Linked DNA regions of Homo sapiens. The protein of the gene in region 2 purifies or fractionates together with the protein of the main gene of each other region. This does not show direct contact. Each region holds a gene or a part of one and is shown on either strand. Other genes may lie near its edges.

Region 1 (3,812 bases), on a different chromosome or scaffold from region 2:
CACACACACAAAACCTACTTTGAAACAATTTACTTACTTAACAGCAGTAAGAAAACTAAGCAATATTATGGTCAACAACGCTCCTTAAACTTTAGAATAACTACATAAGAATATTCCTTTTTCCTTAAAATTATTTTTGCCATCAACGACCTGCTCAAATTTTAAGGTGAGTTTTTGTGTTTTCTATGTTCCAAATCTTCATAGGAACCAGAAAAAAAGCAGTGAAGGCTCCATGTTTCAGTCAAAAACTCAATTTCCCAGCTGGCATCATTCCCCAAGACAGTGGGGTTAACAAAAGAACTAATCCACACTGCATCAAAAATAATTATCATTGGCCTAGACATCCGGTTTTTTTTTTTTTTTGAGACGGAGTCTCACTCTGTTGCCCAGGCTGGAGTGCAGTGGCGTGATTTTGGCTCACTGCAACTTCTACCTCCCAGGTTCAAGCGATTCTCTTGCCTCAGCCTCCTGAGTAGCTGAGATTACAGGCATGTGCCACCATGCCCGGATAATTTTTGTATTTTTAGTAGAGACGGGGTTTCACCGTGTTGGTCAGGCTGGTCTCGAACTCCTGACCTCGTGATCCGCCCGCCTCGGCCTCCCAAAGTGCTGGGATTACAGGTGTGAGCCACCACGCCCAGCCGGGCCTAGACATCTTGACAAGACATAAAGGTCCACCCTGAACCTAAATGTGTCTGAGCAGTCAGTGTTGTACTGTGGCTACTACTTCACTTTTGTATCATTCTATCTTATTAGCAAGCTACATTTCTAGGTTAACAGTTCTACCAAATATGAATATGAAAGTTTATTTTTAATGAGACAATGTTGCAAATTATGGTCAACCAACATCTTTTCACCAAATACTTCAAGCATAAAAAATGAGAATCTTTACAAAAATATACAGAGACACCACAAATTGGTAGCTGCCCATAACATTAAACAAACTGGACTCTTAAGAGTGGCTTCTCAACAGCATATCATTTTAATTATAACCATTGCCTGGTACAGGGAAAACTAACAAGTGTTTTTTAAGCATCATTGCAACATTGTATTCCTGATAATTTAAGTAAACCAAACTATGAGTAAATGAATGATACATGCCTAAAAATGACCATGGTTTATACTATCAGTGGCCACTGGACTTAGGACTAGTCCAAGACCTTGATCTAGATTTTGACCTAGACCTAGACTGTGATCTTGACTGAGATTTGGATCTAGGTGGTTCTTTTTTCCTTGATTCCTTTTCATATCTTGAGCCAGACTTATAATGTGTTTTGGAATCTGTTTTAGAGGTGCCTCTAGTTTTGGTGTGAGATGCAGACCTAGAACGTGATTTAGCCTTCATTTCTTTCTTGGGCTGGGACTTGGACCGTGATCTTGAATTGGATTTAGATCTTGAAAAAGATCGATTTCGGTGTTTGAATCTTTCAAAACAGAGGAGAGATATAATTAGAGTAAAAATTAGATTCTATATTAATCAAATTTGTTATTTTTAGAGCAAAAGTTCACTCTGAAATTAAAAAATACATGAGTCTTTTTCAAAGCAAAGTTATTTACCTATCATTGTCGGAATGGCTTCTGCTACGCCGTGGTCTTCCAGTCGGTCTACTGCTAAAAAGCATATCAGAAAAAGCAGTGACAAATATCTATTCATAGAGGCAAAGTTTCTAATTAAAAGCAAACCATAAAACTTTTAAAATAAAATGCTACAGTATTTTTTGTCTCAATGAAACATTCAATGTATATAATTAAAAGTATACAAAATAGTAAAAAAAAATTAAATGCTAACAAATACATTTTTTAAACAGATCACTGTGCTACACAGCACACTTACTTTCTAGGACTATACGATCTTCTATAGTTGTAATCAAAAGACCGACTTCTTGATCTCCTCCTTTCATAACTTCGGCTTCTAGAACGTCTGTATCTGTCATAATCATCATAGCGTGAAGAACTGTACACATTCCTCCCTTCCTTGGCTTTCATCTGATTTGGTGCTAGGAAATACAAAGAACAGAAATATTTAAAAATATTAAAAACAGTATTAAAGCCCTCAATAAATAGGGAAAAAAATCCCTGCATCCCCTCTTATATCCCAAAGAGAGTATGTATGACCCGGGTGGTGGCTCACACCTGTGATCCCACTACTTTGGGAGGTTGAGGTGGGAGGATCACTTGAGCCCAGGAGTTTGAGACCAGCCTGGGGCAACATAGCAATATGCCATTTCTACAAAAAATAATTAGCTGGGCCTAGTGGCTTGCACATGTATTCCAGCTACCCAGGAGGCTAAGGGGGGAAATCACTTGAGCTCATGAGTTGGTGGCTGCAGTAAATTGTGATCACACCACCGCACGCCAGCCTGGGGGTCAGAGACCCTGTCTCCAAAAAAAAAAAGTGTGTATGTGTTTTGGTGTCTTTTTTTTTTAATTATTTTAATTTTTGAGACCAGGGTCTTGCTCTGTTACCCAGGCTGGAATGCAGTGGCGCAATCTCAACTCACTGCAACCTCCACCCCACACCAGTTGAAGCCATTCTCCTGCCTCAGCCTCCTGAGGAGCTGAGATTACAGGCACGCGCCACCACACCCGGCTAATTTTTGTATTTTAGTAGAGACAGGGTTTCACCATATTGGCCAGGCTGGTCTCGAATTCCTGACCTCAAATAATCCACCCGCCTCGGCCTCCCGAAGTGCTAGGATTACAGGTGTGAGCCACCGCACCCAGCCTGGAGTCTTTTTTTTTTGAGACGGAGTTTTGCTCTTGTTGCCCAGGCCGGAGTGCGATGGCGCAATCTCGGCTCACCACAACCTCCGTCTCCTGAGTTCATGCGATTCTCCTGCCTCAGCCTCCCAAGTAGCTGGGATTACAGCATGCGCCACCACACCAGGCTAGTTTCGTATTTTTAGTGCAGACAGGGTTTCTCCATGTTGGTCAGGCTGGACTTGAACTCCTGACCTCAGGTGATCTGCCCCTGCCCGCCTTGACCTCCCAAAGTGCTGGGATTACAGGCTTGAGCCACCGTGCCCAGCCCTGGAGTCTGTTTTAGAGGTGTCTGTAGTTTTGGTGTGAGATGCAGATGCAGAACGTGATTTAGCCAAGGCTGGGTTGAGGTAACTGCAAATTTTCATCTTGAAAAAGGCACGTATTTATTTTCAAGAAAGTGTATTAGAAGACTGTTTTATGTTAAAAATAATACTAATATCCCCAACTATTTTCAAAGTCTTCTCACCATCTAGTTTATCAGCCAAGACCTGGTAACTGTTCTGACACTGGGAATCCATACCATAAAAGGATTTTTAAAAACTCCAAATGGAAGTGAGTGCCTTTTTGTTTTGAGATTGGGTCTTGCTGCTACCCAGGCTGGAGTGCACTTGTGCAAACACAGCTCTCTGCAACTTCAACCTCCTGGGCCCAAGTGATCCTCCTGCCTAGCGGGGACCACAGGTGTGCACTATCAAGCCTGGCTAATTTTTTATTTTATTTTTTGTGGAGATGGGGTCTCACTTTGTTGCCCAGGCTGGTCTCAAACTCCTGGGCTCAGGCAATTCTCCCGCCTAGGCCTCCCAAAGTGGTGGGATTACAGGCGTGAGCTACCACACCCACATATTTTACATTTTCAAATGGCTGAAAAAAATGACCACTGAACCATATGCTGATTTGGAATGATCCCACCACAGATTCCATTCATTAAGAACACAATTAACAAAATATTTATAGGTGGCCTATGAACAATGTGCAGTGTCAACATGCAGTAATATTACAGTTCTAAGACCCTAAGTAGAATAATAAGGCATTCCTAAATGCCTTATGTA
Region 2 (3,681 bases):
ATGTGAATGGCATGAAAAGCAAGAAAGCAAGGGCTGGCACTGGGCCGCAGGTGACTTCTGCTGCCTGGGGGTGTGTCCGCTTGCCTGTGTGGCACAGGACGAGGTCCCCCAGGCTGCCGAGAGGCTCCCAGGTAGGGCTGGGGATACTGGCCTGTGCCTGAGCTCATGCAGGTGACCCTGTTATTATAGAACAATGGCCAGCTGGCAATCACACTTCCCTTCCTTGACCTCATGGTGCAAGTTACTCAACAGCAAAGTGCAAAGGCGGCACGCTGGCCACATCAGAGGCACAGCAAGGCCCCTGCCGACGCTGAGCTACCAGGGATTTATTCCTAAAAAGACAGGACCAGCTTGGGCCAGAACAGGCTCCTCCCGCGCTGAGGAAGTTCCACCCAATCCCACAGAACACAGCTCTCCTCTTCAGCAGGTGCCGGGGGGTCTGGGAGCCTGAACCCCACAGCCCTGGAGGCTTCCCTCCCCTCCTCCTATCACCACCTGCAAACCCCACTTCTCAAGGCCCAGGGCTTCCCAGACCCCAGGACACAAGATCAGGGGTTTCTGGGCCTCGGGGCCAGGCAGGAAAGCTAGCAGGCTCCTCTGCTCACCAGTCCGGCATTTGCACAACACTGAGACTGACAGCTTGGGTTGCTGATAAATGTGTTTACTCACAGGCCAGACCTGCACAGCCTGCAGACAAGGAGGAAGCGGTTTGTGGCTGGAGAGTTGGACACCCCCACCCCCACTCGGCGGTGCTCTCAGTGAGGCAGCCCCGGGTGAGAGCTGCCCACAACCCTTGTTCCCCGCAGGATCCTGTTCTAGCTATCCTTTCTCCCAACCTCGCCTCCAGGGCCCTTCCTCACTGCCCAAGGGGGCCGAGGTGCTGAGAGCTGAAGGTGACAACAATACACATGCAGGTCAGCAGGAAGGGGCAGCTTGGCCAGAATGTAACCAGAGCAGACCAACCTGGCCGGGCAGCCCTGAGGCTCCCAGGGCCCTGTCACACTGGGGATGGCGGTGCTGCCCACTGTAGCCCTGGAGGTGGGAAGACAGGGCAGATGATCGCCCGAGGGGGATTGGGTGTCAGTCTGCTGAGTAAGTTCTACGTAACAAGGCGGTACCGGATAGGGCGGGGTGGGGTTTCCAGCCAGCAGCAGAGCCTGCCCCTCGACCCACTCCCACGGAGGGGGAGGTGTGGGCTCCCAGGGTGCCTGAGGGCCCTGTCTGTGGCCTCCTGCCCTGGACCAGTTGGAGCAGCAGCAGGAGGAGGGTCGTGGAGGCGGGTGAGTCCTCAGGAGAAGGAACGGGGCTGCCTCTGGGGCCAAAGCAAACCCGACACCCGATGCCCGGTGGGTTTCCACAACTCCCTGACCGTTTCCAGAGGCTTGTCCCGGTTCCGACAGACCTCAGGAAGCCCGGCCCCAGCTCACCCGGAAAGATGTGGACACCAGGCCTGGATCTTACCCCACATGCATCTTTGCTTGCTCCTGGCTTAAACACCATGTATTTCCACTTTGAGGCCAAAAACACCCAAAAAGGTGATAGTGTAATTTCAAAAAGCAAACAGATTAGCAAATCCAGGGAGACATCCACCCTGCCTGGGCAGCTTCTATAAAACGAAACCCAGCGCCTTGAGAAACAAAGTGAGCTGAGTCAATCATTCCTGCTTTATATTTAAACTGCAAAGACAGAACACAGAGCATTCGATTTGAAAATTCTGGACCCATTTGCACCAGTCCCTGCTGACCCCACACCCTTCCTTCCTGTCACAGCCAGGGCTCACTGTGCGGTGACTGCGACCCTGGGTGCAGGAGCCGGGGGCCCCCGCAGGACAGGCACTTGGGGGGTGGCCTTCTGGCTCCTCTCTGCAGACAGGCGCTCCAGGCGCTCCGTGTAGAAACCATTGAAGTCAAGCCTGTGAGGAAGGACAGTGGAGCTGGGGTGCACACCCCTTCTGCGGGTGCATGCTGGGCAGCAGGGGTGTGGAAGGACGGTGCAGCTAGGGTGCACACCCCTTCTGCGGGTGCGTGCTGGGCAGCAGGGGTGAGGAAGGACAGTGGAGCTGGGGCACACACTCCTTCTGCGGGTCCGTCCTGAGCAGCCCTGCTCCTACCATGGGGAAGTGTTCAGCTACAGAGACCATAAGAGGCCCTGCAGGGGTGAGGGTGAGGCACGCTCCTAACTAATGTTTCCACAGGAAGGTTTTCAGTCCTGTTCAGTCCTGCTCAAAGGCACAAACACAGGTTTCTTCTCTCCTGGCCCCAGAAAGTTGGGGCTCCCATCACCCCAACAGGGCCTAGCAATGGGGCCTGAGGTGTCAGGGGCTTGGAGAACCAAGCAGTGGTTCTCAATGCAGGGTGGCCTCAGAAATCCCTGCTCAGAAAATCAGAACATTTGTGGGGGGCACAGGGCACAGGGTGGTCCAAAAGCACAAATAGGCACCTTCCCAAGGACAGCACCCCCAAGGGCACCACCCCTTCCAGGCTGGCAGTTTGGCCACCTGGCCCTTTCCCCCAGGCTAGGTGTTAGTGCAGCATGAGGGAAGCTGACCCAGGCCTGATCAGCCCCACAGGACACACACAGCCGCAGGGTGCCAATGGGGCAGCCCAGTTGCACAGAATGTCACACCCCAGGGAGAGCTGGGCTAGCCTGACTTCAGGGAGTGGCATATGACCAGCACTAGCACCAGGACACAGACCTGCCCCACCTTCTGAAGGAGGCTACACCAGGTGGACCAGGGGAGGGTGCAGGGGAGATGGGGCCTGGATGCAGGGACAGGTGCTGAGCTGGGGTGGCGCTGGGCTGGGGCAGATGCTGGGCTGAGCTGAGGAAGGGCTGAGCCGGGGCAGGCGCTGGGCTGAGCTGGGGGAAGGCTGAGCCGGGGCAGCACTGGGCCAGGGCGGTGCTGGGCAGGGGCAGGCGCTGGGCTGAGCTGGGGGAAGGCTGAGCCGGGACAGCACTGGGCCAGGGCGGTGTTGGGCAGGGGCAGGTGCTGGACTGAGCTGAGGAAGGGCTGAGCCAGGGCGGTGCTGGGCAGGGGCAGGTGCTGGGCTGAGCTGGGGGAAGGCTGAGCCGGGGCAGCACTGGGCCAGGGCAGTGCTGGGCAGGGGCAGGTGCTGGGCTGAGCTGGGGGACGGCTGAGCAGGGACAGCACTGGGCCAGGGCGGTGTTGGGCAGGGGCAGGTGCTGGACTGAGCTGAGGAAGGGCTGAGCCAGGGCGGTGCTGGGCAGGGGCAGGCGCTGGACTGAGCTGAGGAAGGGCTGAGCCGGGGTGGCGCCCACCCACCTGGAGATGACGCTGGCCATGCCGTGCTCACAGTCACTGGTGCTATAGATGCTCAGCCGGGCCAGGAGGTCCAGCAGGTGGGCTGAGAAGTTCTTGTCAAACTTGTTGATGGTGGCCTCGAAGCCGGACACCAGCTGCACAGTGTCTGCGTGCTCAGCCAGGTGCTGGAAAGAAAGCCGGGGTGCGTGAGCCATGCCCACCCCCACCGTGGGCCTTCTTGGCTCCACACTGTTCCCAGCAGGCCGGTGTCCTTTCCCTTCCCCTTTTCTTAAATAGAAAACATGGGTTCCATGATGTTTTCAGGAGATTCAAGGTAAAAAAGACATCAAAAAACATTCCTGAGAACCCAGCACTCAGAGAAACACTCCAGGCCTCGTGGGATGAGGTGGTCACTCTCC

Evidence for each region.
Region 1: the proteins of TUBGCP2 (region 2) and SRSF10 purify together in Homo sapiens (affinity purification with mass spectrometry; one large-scale study listed by BioGRID and IntAct). This does not show direct contact.

Annotation. Positions count from the first base shown.
Region 1 is NC_000001.11:23,970,016-23,973,827, forward strand, and holds part of SRSF10 (serine/arginine-rich splicing factor 10), read right to left. Parts: intron 1,998-3,812; coding exon 1,835-1,997; intron 1,612-1,834; coding exon 1,558-1,611; intron 1,425-1,557; coding exon 1,127-1,424; 3' UTR 1-1,126. UniProt on the Homo sapiens protein: Splicing factor that in its dephosphorylated form acts as a general repressor of pre-mRNA splicing. Seems to interfere with the U1 snRNP 5'-splice recognition of SNRNP70. Required for splicing repression in M-phase cells and after heat shock.
Region 2 is NC_000010.11:133,277,990-133,281,670, forward strand, and holds the end of TUBGCP2 (gamma-tubulin complex component 2), read right to left. Parts: intron 3,448-3,681; coding exon 3,284-3,447; intron 1,913-3,283; coding exon 1,777-1,912; 3' UTR 646-1,776; downstream 1-645. UniProt on the Homo sapiens protein: Component of the gamma-tubulin ring complex (gTuRC) which mediates microtubule nucleation.